Homo sapiens: one gene and its partner. The protein of the gene in region 1 purifies or fractionates together with the protein of each later gene. This does not show direct contact. Each region holds a gene or a part of one and is shown on either strand. Other genes may lie near its edges.

The links.
Region 2: the proteins of IFT56 (region 1) and PANK4 purify together in Homo sapiens (affinity purification with mass spectrometry; one large-scale study listed by BioGRID and IntAct). This does not show direct contact.

What each region holds. Positions count from the first base shown.
Region 1 is NC_000007.14:139,143,778-139,149,012, reverse strand, and holds part of IFT56 (intraflagellar transport protein 56), read right to left. Parts: intron 2,030-5,235; exon of another isoform or gene 1,869-2,029; coding exon 1,723-1,868; intron 808-1,722; coding exon 636-807; intron 1-635. UniProt on the Homo sapiens protein: Component of the intraflagellar transport (IFT) complex B required for transport of proteins in the motile cilium.
Region 2 is NC_000001.11:2,508,509-2,513,743, reverse strand, and holds the end of PANK4 (4'-phosphopantetheine phosphatase), read left to right. Parts: intron 1-704; coding exon 705-856; intron 857-2,060; coding exon 2,061-2,116; intron 2,117-2,356; coding exon 2,357-2,406; intron 2,407-2,961; coding exon 2,962-3,066; intron 3,067-3,586; coding exon 3,587-3,687; intron 3,688-3,813; coding exon 3,814-3,882; intron 3,883-4,683; coding exon 4,684-4,897; 3' UTR 4,898-5,207; downstream 5,208-5,235. UniProt on the Homo sapiens protein: Phosphatase which shows a preference for 4'-phosphopantetheine and its oxidatively damaged forms (sulfonate or S-sulfonate), providing strong indirect evidence that the phosphatase activity pre-empts damage in the coenzyme A (CoA) pathway.

The DNA of each region.
Region 1 (5,235 bases):
GGTTTCTAATGTGGTTTACTGGATGTATGTTGGTGGCATTCAATCACAGAGCCACACACATATTTTAGAGGAAGAAGCTGAAGCATTTGTTTTTTGGTTTTTGGGTTTTTTTGAGACAGAGTCTCGCTCTGTCACCTAGGCTGGAGTGCAGTGGCTCAATCTCGGCTCACTGAAACCTCCACCCGCCCCCCGAACCCCCCAGTAGCTGGGATTACAGGCATGCACCACCACACCCAGCTAATTTTTTGTATTTTTAGTAGAGATGGGGCCATGTTGGCTAGGCTGGTCTCAAACTCCTGGCCTCAAGTGATCTGCCCGCCTTGGCCTCCCAAAGTGCTGAGCCACAGCGCCCGGCCAGAAGCATTTGGTTTTAAACATAAGCATTTGGTTTTAAATGTAGGGCATCTCAGTAAAATCATCTACAATTTAATGGACATAACACAGATAATTCAGAAGTCAACATTCTTTTTAGAATACCTGATAAACATATAATTAGGTTCTTATAGAATCACAGTGGCAATGATAAAGGGATATTAATCAAGAGTTACAGATAACAGAGTTTCATGAATAACTTGGAAAGTATAAAGTAATTCAAATTGGAATGAAGTACATTAAAAACACACTTCCATCAATACCTCAGCTGCTCTGCCATTGTAAAGGCGAAAATGGTTACAGGCTTTAAGATTGAGTGCGATGGTACTATCAGGAATTTGCTGAAGGTAAACAGCCAAAACTTCTTGAGACACATCATAGTAATCCAACTTGTAGTAGCAGAGGGCCACATAAACATTAAGGGCAAGGTATTCCCTATTAGATGAAAGAATTAGGGTTAACCATTTAAGTCTACTTCACGGAAATGTCAAATTACAAAGCTCAAATGGACAAGGCAAAGAGGACAGTTCATGAACCTGCCTTATGAAGAAAGAGGGCAAGATATGATCAGTATAATTTTTTTCTTTTTGCATTGCAATATTTGGGTGTTTTGATATAAGTAGAATGAAAGATGACTAGAGAAGAAAGGGAAAGTTCACGCTGTTCACACTGAAAAACTAATATATGCAATAATTGAACATAAACACAAGCACACTCCACACAGAAGACCAACAGACAAGACACATAGGCTTGATGGCTGGAAATGGAAGCAGGTAGGAGACTAAGAAGGTAATGCAAAAGAGGATGGAAAGAAGGGGGATGAGATATTTTTGGGAAGGGAGAGAGAGGCCAAGTGTTTAAAGTTGGAATGTAAATTCTTAAGAATGATTTGTATCTAATTTTGTCAGCAAGTTACCTACGATGTAACTATAACACTAAGTTTGATACATCTAGACCATACATTTCAACTGGGGTAATATCAGTATTACCCCCAAAGGGGAAAAATTGGTTCTTAATGGGAGGATGAAAAAATCATAATCATTTTATATGTAAAGCACAGTTATACATATAGTACATATATGGATATATATTAATATACATCTATCAGTATATTAAAATTTCATGGGAGGGCAATTGGGGGAAAAAGTCTTTTAGAAGGGTGACAATGCAAAAAAAGGTAGAGAAAGCCTGATTTAGACAATATCTAATTCTTAATCTCACCAAATTATCAACTAAACAGATTTGAACACATAGTGGTACTAGATCCAGAGGACACTAGATTCTCAAACTAGTTAAAGAAGAAACTAACAAAATGAAAGGAATGGAGAGTGGGCATAAAAGGACACAGACCTGTTATCTAGCAGTATTCGCTTATATATATCTATAGCTTCTTGGTAGTGAGATCGCATATAGTGGATTGAGGCCAAACTGAGTTGATCTTCTGTGACATCCTGAAGATTTTGATGAAAGCTCATCAATTTTTTCTCATCATTAAACTAAAATTGTGAGAGTGGAAAAGACATGTAAAGATTCATATTAGTGTTGTTAGAGAAATCAATATCTATGTGATAGAGATTTTAACTCTTCCTTCTTTAGCCATTGTGTCTCTCTCTTCTTCCTATTTCCCTTAGGTTCTTTGTCTTCTACTTCATTTCTCCTGCAAAGAAACAATGGAAATAGCCTCTGGAGGCATAGCTTGACAACGACAATGGAAAGCCCTTAGGTTACAGTTAATACTATTTGACCCTTCCCCTTATCTTTTCTTTTTCTTTATATTTTCTCCCTTTCCTTTTCTTTTTCTGTCTACTCTCTTTACTATTACCTGGTAACATTTTTAATCTGTTCTTTCTTTCTTCTTTTTTTTTTTTTTTTTTGAAACGGAGTCTTGCCCTGTCCCCCAGGCTGGAGTGCAATGGCACGATCTCGGCTCACTGCAACCTCTGCCTCCCAGGTTCAAGCAATTCTCCAGCCTCAGCCTCCCAAGTTCCTGGGATTACAGGCGCATGCCACCACGCCCGGCTAATTTTTTGTATCTTTGGTAGAGATGGGGTTTCACCATGTTGGCCAGGCTGGTCTTGAACTCCTGACGTCGTGATCCGCCCACCTCAGCCTCCCAAAGTGCTGGGATTACAGGTGTGAACCACTGTGCCCAGCCAATCTGTTCTTTCATATCTCGTTCTTCTTGGTAGACAATAGGGAATCAAAATGTATTTCTCATCATGTAACCTAGTGTATTCAATTTTTAATTTCCTGCTCTACATTTTTTCATCCTTTCTTCAGTTACTATATATTGTTGTTGTTTGAGATTGTCAGAATTCTATTCCAACCTTGTAATGCTTATTTTGTTAGATGGCTGCCGCAAATATTAGCTGCCTTTTGCTTATATATGGGGCAGAACAGATATATTTTTGACAGTGACCCTTAATATGTAGATTGCTCACTCCTGCCTGTTACAGAGAATGACTTATTAGCTTAAAAATTTTGTAAAGAATTGTCTTCTGTAGACTATCTAGTTACATGGAAAAATGTTCATGATACATTTTTAAGTGAAAAGCCTGGTTATAAAACAGAATATATACTATGATACAAATTTGGCAATATAAATATACACATATATACACATATAAAAATACAAATTTTTTAAAGACTGGAAGAAAAGAGAGTAAAATATTACAGTGTTAGCTCTAAGTGGCAGTCTTACAGGAAATCTTGATTTTTGTGTGTATGCAATTTGCTATTTTCTAAAAGTACTATGATGAACATGTATTATTTTTGTAATCAGAAGAAAAACACAATAAAATATATTTCTTTAAATTCAATCAAAGACTTTCACTACTAATAATATTAGAGTAGCTTGTAGTATGCAGTGCTCCCACCAAGAACATCTAGAAAATCTTAAAAACTACTGAAAAATCTGTGTAAAAGGGGCAGGGGCAGTGGCTCACGCCTATAATCCCAGCACTTTGAGAGGCTGAGGTGAGCAGATCACTTGAGCTCAGGAGTTTGAGACCAGCCTGGGCAACATGGTAATACCCTGTCTCTACAAAAATTGGCTGGGCATGGCAGTGCACACTTGTAATCTCAGCTACTTGGGAGGCTGAGGCACAAGGATTGCTCAAGCCTGGGAGGCAGAGGTTACAGTGAGCTGAGATGGCGCCATTGCACTCCAGCCTGGGTGACGGGGAGTGATATCCTGTCTCAAAAAAACAAACAAAAAAAATCTACGTGAAGGGTTCAGAGAGCTACCAAGTGAGTGAAGACTTGAGATACCAAGATCCCAAGCAGAACAGAAGTGCAAAGAGGTGATTCTGATATTTAGTACCATTTTTTTCTCTAATGGTACCTATCAATTCTCAATTGGTGGCTGAGTTGCTGAAAACTAAGCGAGCTTCAAGAAGTCTTATGGGCTTAATGGACAAAAAAATAGAGATTGGGGCCCACCAAGCTATCAGTTGGGACCCCTGGAAAGCTACCCTAGAAACAGAGGTAAAATGGAAATAGACCAGCTTTAAATTGTTGCAATCTCTGACAGGTATCAGTTGATTTGCCCCTTTTCTATGTGCCTGCCAGAAGTAAAAGTAAATTCTAAATCCTCTCTGGAAGAAGACAAAAGCATCCAGAGACTCGAATTATCTCTCTATATTTTAATATACAATAGCCAGCATTAAACACAATATTGCCAAGCAAACCAGGAGATAAGAACATTTGACTGAAAACCAGGAAACAGCTGTCCAGAGATACACTATTGGAATTACTAGACATGGACTTTAAAAATAACTTATTATCAATATATTTAAGAAATTAAATTAAAAATTAGGAAATTTTAACTGGAAATTAGAAATTTAAAAAGTAATAAAATGTAAATTCTAAAAATAAATACAATAACTGAAATTAAGAACGAAATAGATAAATGGAATAGCTGGTTAGACACAGCTGAAGAATGATGATTAGTAAAATAAATTTCTGTGGAAATATACAGAAAATGTGACAAAGTGTTTACATGCGATACAAACAAAAGGTCTACATACATACATACATACATATTACTGGGAGCCTAGAAGGAAAGAAGAGAGTATAGAGCAGAAGCAAAATTTGAAGTAACAATGACCAAGGATTCTTTTAATTAAAAAAAGAAAAGACCTCGAGCAAGCACTATGAACCTGATGTAGTGTAATACAAAGAAAACCATATCTGGGAATATTATAGGAAAAGTGCTAATAACAAAAACCAATGTATAAATCTTAAACATGATCAGAAAAAAAATCTTCATAGGAGCAACAATTAGACTGATGGCTAACATCTCAGTAGAGACAAGGACCTAGGAAGCAATAAAGCAACATCTTCAAAATGCTAAGCAAAAATAATTACCTACCTAGAACTCTACACTGAGAAAAAAATCCTTTAAAAAACCATAGTCAAATAAAAATATGTTTAGACAAAAACTGAGAGAATTCATCACCACTAAAGGAAATATTAAAGGAAATTCCTCAAATGGAAAATGATTTCAGATAGGAGCACAAACATGCAAGAAGAAATGAAGAGCAATGGAAAGGAAAAATATGGCTAATTATAAATGAATATTAACTGCATAAAACAGTAATAAAACAGTCTTATGGGATTAGAAACATATAGACACTTAAAATATTTTTCAAATTTGCACATAAGATGGAGAGTAAATGAGTTTAAATGATCTAAGGTCCTTTAATTTTTCTAGAAATTGGTAAAAGTACTAATCAATATCAAACTTTTTAATATGCAAAATACACATGATATGGTAACTGCTAAAATAATATTCCCAATGTACATAACTAGCAAGCAAATCGAGGATAAATATATAGTTTTAAAAATCAATCCAAAAAAAGG
Region 2 (5,235 bases), on another chromosome or scaffold:
GAACCCCAGTTTGGATGTGTTCCTGACAGACACAGGCTGCCTGCCTGCAGGAGCCAAGGGCCTCCCAGCTTCTGTGAGGGTGGGCGATTGTGGTTGGGGACTGCTTTCCCCTCATGGGGAGGGGCTGGAACCCTGGACCACCCTGGCTCCCTCCTAGGAGGCTGGACAGTGACCAGAGGCCTCCTATCCCGGCAACGTGCAGGGCCGTGCAAGGTGGGCCTTTCCGGGCGTCCGTTTTGCTTCCCCAAGTCTGGCGGCCAGAGCCCTCCTTGGCCCTTTCTGCCAGGAGGCAGCGGGCAGCAGCGGAGGCATGGACTCCTCCCACCTCTTCTGGGAAGGGCCAGCGCCATGCCTCCCTCCCCTCACACGCCGAGCCTTGTGACAGCGGAAGTCTGGGTGTCGAGGGTTTTGAGGCCAGGGCTGTGGGTACCTGTGGGGGCCGTGTCCTCCACTCTTGTCCTGCCCTTCACCCACTGCTCAGTCACATGGGGGCTGAAGTTGTCCTGGGCCTCGTCCTCAGAGCCCCGTGCAGCTGTGCGCTGGCCACTGTCCCGGACCGATAGGCTTGTGCCTGGTGGGGTCCCAGTTGGGCCTGAGTCTTCGATCCTGAGGGGCGTGGTATGGAACAGGCTGCGCCTGGCAGGTGTCCAGGGTGGGCTGAGGCCACGTCTTCACTCAGGCCTGGCATCTGGCACTCTCCACAGGTGAAGCAGCGGGAGAATGGCGTGGCGCTGAGGTGCTTCCCCGGGGTCGTGCGCTCCCTGGACGCGCTGGGCTGGGAGGAACGGCAGCTGGCGCTGGTGAAAGGCCTCCTGGCGGGGAATGTCTTCGACTGGGGGGCCAAAGCCGTGTCTGCGTAGGTGTCTGCGGGCTCGGAGCAGGCTCTGCAGCCTGTGGGTGCCTGTCCTGCCCCAGGCTTGCGGGCAAGGAGGTGGAGCGGGTCCCTTGGGGGTCACGTGGCGCTTGGTGGCTTGGTGGCTCAGGGCTTTGGGGCCCAGGGAGTGCACATGGCAGCAGCGCCAGGGGCTGGGCAGGGCGCAGCGCCCTTGTCTGTCCCCTCAGGTTCTGAGGAGGCCCCTTCCTTAAGCATGGGTGCCGCAGAGGCCTAAGGGTGTGGATTTGAAAATCGGGGCTGGCATTTTCTATTGTCAGAATCCAAATTCATGTTTCCTATGTGTGGTAGGAATTAAACATTTCTGATGTGATGATCAAAGGGTGCTTTGCAAAGCAGTCCCCTAGACTGGCCTGTAGGACACGCAGGTGTCTAGCACCTGGCGCCGTCTCCTGGGGCTCTGAATCTTGAAAATGAACCCCCCCACCATCATTTACCTTCACTCCCAAAGAAGCTGCTTCCAGTCTCTGGGCCTCCCCAGGCGGCCGCACCACCTCTCGTGGTCCCTGCTTTTTTTCATGTGGGGCTGGAGGGAAATGCCTGGGTTCTCAGCCCTCCCTGGGTCCCACTCGTGTCTCGAGACATAGATGAGAACGCCGCCTCCAACCATGGCTGCCCCTCTGGGACACAGGCCCCTCCCGCAGCCTGTCAGGAGCATTGGAGGAGGGTCCTGACCCATGGGATTGGCCTTGTGGCTGGGGGCTCCCCACACCGCCTGCATGGGTGCCAAGCACAGGGACCATACTGCGGCTGCCAGTCACCGAGAGGCTTCCCTGGCCCCGTGGCTCCGAGTCCACCTTGAGAAACAGCCTGTGCTCTCTCAGACCTTTGCTTGGTGGCCCCCTGAGCCTTCTGCGGATCGCAGCATGTTAAGAACGCTGTATCTGTTCTGCCTGGGAGTGATTTGGGGTCTTCACGTTGAGCAGCTGCCTCTGTCCCACCTGGGAGGGATTTGGGGTCTTAGCAGCTGCCTCTGTCCTGCCTGGGAGTGATTTGGGGTCTTCACGTTGAGCAGCTGCCCCTGTCCCACCTGGGAGGGATTTGGGATCTTTACATTGAGCAGCTGCCTCTGTCCCGCCTGGGAGGGATTTGGGGTCTTCACATTGAGCACTGTGGCTGAAGGTTTTTGTTCTGTTGTCTTAATTTTCTTTTCTCCTCCTCCATGCAGTGTCCTTGAATCCGACCCCTACTTTGGGTTTGAAGAAGCAAAGAGGAAGTTACAAGGTACGGATGGCCAAGTAACTTGGGGCCTTGCCTTGTGCTGGGGCCATGCCTGGACGTTCTCTGCAACAGCGAATGCAGTTGCGGTCGGGGTCCAGGCACCTCCCCTGCTCAAGGCTCTGTCAGCTGGGCTTCGGGGGCGGGGAGAACTTGCTTCCTGGAGAGACGAACACCTGAAGACGCGTCTCCCTGACCCCTGACCTGGAGCACCGGGCTAATCATGTGTCCCTCTCTCTGTCTCAGAAAGACCCTGGCTCGTGGATTCCTACAGCGAGTGGCTTCAGAGATTAAAGGTATGTGGAGGGGCCTCCCACCTCTGCTGCTGGGGACACAGCGGGGCCCGGGGGGGTGGTCACTGGAGGGAGGTGGGCATGGGCTGCCTCGGGTGGCCCTCCCCTCCTGTTAGAGTCTCACCATCCTGCGAGCCAAGGGTCTCAGCATCCCCTGCCCCACACTTGCCCTCCTGTCGTGACTGCTTCTTAGGTCACCTGCTCTAGGCACAAAGCCTTGCCAGAAGAGACAGGCACTGGCCCCTGCAGGCCAATCCGTCCCTGGCGCCTCTGGGGTCCTGAAGCCCCAGTCTCAGCCCCTGCAGGCTGGCCCGTCCCGGTGCCTCTGGGGTCCTGAAGTCCCGGTCTCAGCCCCTGCAGCCCAGCCCAGTCCCGGCACCTCTGGGGCCCTGAAGCCCCTGGTCTCGGCCCCTGCAGGACAGCCCATCCCTGGCATCTCTGGGGCCCTGAAGCCCCCAGTCTCGGCCCCTGCAGGGCAGCGTGACGGGCAGCAGGGGTGCGGACTGACTCGCTTGGATGCGCCTGTTCCCAACTGAACGTCCTGGTTTTGTCTTACAGGGGCCCCCTCATAAATGTGCCTTAATTTTCGCAGATAACAGTGGAATAGACATCATTTTGGGAGTCTTCCCCTTTGTCAGGGAGCTACTCCTTAGAGGGACAGAGGTGAGTGTTGAGGTGGTGGGTGGGGCCCTTCCCCTGGGCTTCTCTGCTCTCGGTGGGGTTGGCGCCGCTGTGGGCCTCTGGCGGTGGTCGGGGCTCCTCCGGACGCAGCAGGTAGGTGCAGGCAGCAGCACGGGGGAGGCGGCCCAGAGCCGTCATCTGCTGGGGTGGAGGCTCCGAGCCCCCTGGGCTCAGGCTGAGGGTCCATGTGCTGAAGCCCAGGGTTGACGCCAGGCTCCTGGAAGGGTGCTCACAGCAAGGAGGCTTTGGGGCTGTGACTTCACAGACAGGCAGGTCCCAGGGGCAGGCTCTAAACTCAGCTCTGCCCCTCGGCTCAGCTCCCTCCCAGGGGCCACAGAGTGGCAAGGTCAGGCGAGGTCCCTGCTCCTCAGCAGCAGGTGGCTGGCCAGGCCCGCTGGGCACAGCACCCTCACCCAGCCCAGCCACTCGAAGGCCGGGGTGCACGCAGGCTCCATGCTGGGCCAGCACAGGTTCCTAAAGAGCCTGGGCCCTCCTCCTGCAGGTCATCCTGGCGTGCAACTCAGGCCCCGCCCTGAACGACGTGACCCACAGCGAGTCCCTCATCGTGGCAGAGCGTATTGCGGGCATGGACCCTGTCGTGCAGTGAGTGTTGGCGGGCAGTGCTGGGGGGGCCTTGATGGGGAGGGGCACCAGCTGGGCAGAGTGGGCCATGGGGATTGTCACTGAACTGGGAGCTCCTGGGGGCACTGACCACCTTGTATCTGGCAGCTCTGCGCTCCAGGAAGAGAGGCTGCTGCTGGTGCAGACGGGCTCCAGCTCCCCGTGCCTCGACCTCAGGTAACCCCGCACCCTGCACCTGTTCTCTCCCTCCTGGGCTCTGTGCCCTCTGTGCCGTGCACCTGCACCCAGGTGCATGCGGGACACCGACCTCAGGACTGCCCCTGCGGCCTCTCCTGACCCCAGGCCCGGATTGATCTCAGGAGGGGACAGATATGCCATCCCCGAAGGTGGCCTGGGGAGGGTGAATGGATTCAGGGTCTGAGGTGGTTACACATGGGCTGGGTTTGGGGACTTGGGGCAAGAGGGGCCAATGTCCCTGTGGCCACTCAGCTGAGACCGAGGGCGACCTGGGCAGCTGCCCGGTGTCTGTCACCTCCGTGTCCCACATAGATGCCAGGCTCTGCTTCTGTGGTTCTGGAGGTCATTAGTCAATTGTATGTGGTGCTGTCTGTCCTCCTGATTGCAGAGGAGGAAGGAACCCCTTAAATGAGCGGGTTCTGAGTGCTGGGGCCGCTGGTCTGCTCTGCCTGGTGGGATTCTCCAGTGCTGGCTTCATCTGTGCCCCAGCCCCACTCTCACCAACAAGGAGGGCGTGAAAATGACAAGGAATCCATCCCTAGAGTTCACAGGAGATCTAGGGCAGAGTTTCCAAGCTGCAGCTGCTCTGGCCCTGTGTGAGCTGCTGCTCTGAGGAAGCCCCAGGCTGAGGCAGCTACCAGGCGGAGGCTGGGTTTGGAGGCCTCCACATCAGGGAATTGAGCGGTAGGGGTTTCAGCCTTCACGTTGGTCGCCGCACTGTATGGGAAGTGGGGTCTGGGGTCTGCTTGCCCAGTCTCACCGTCCTCTTCCTCCCCAAAGCCGCCTGGATAAGGGGCTGGCCGCACTGGTGCGGGAGCGTGGCGCGGATCTGGTGGTCATCGAGGGCATGGGCCGTGCTGTCCACACAAACTACCACGCAGCCCTGCGCTGCGAGAGCCTCAAGCTGGCCGTCATCAAGAACGCGTGGCTGGCCGAGCGGCTGGGCGGCCGGCTCTTCAGCGTCATCTTCAAGTACGAGGTCCCAGCCGAGTGAGGCGCTGCAGCTGCCGGACTCTTCTGCTTGTCACTTGTCAGGAATGTGTTTTTACCACCACAGGGAAACTGCGTTCAAATCAACGTATTTATATGGTACTGCTGTGACGCGGCACATACACCCCAGCCGCACAGATGCGTGTGACCCAGAGGCGAGACGCAGCTTTGTCCTGGGAGACGTTCATATTGGAATCTATTTAACTGCTAAAGAACCTTTTATATATATATATATATAAATAGAGAGATCTATACAGGTATGTCTGACGGGACGCAGCACCGTGGGCACGCACCAAATAGAGTTTTTAAAAGAGGCCGGAGCCATCTGCGATGTTTTATTTC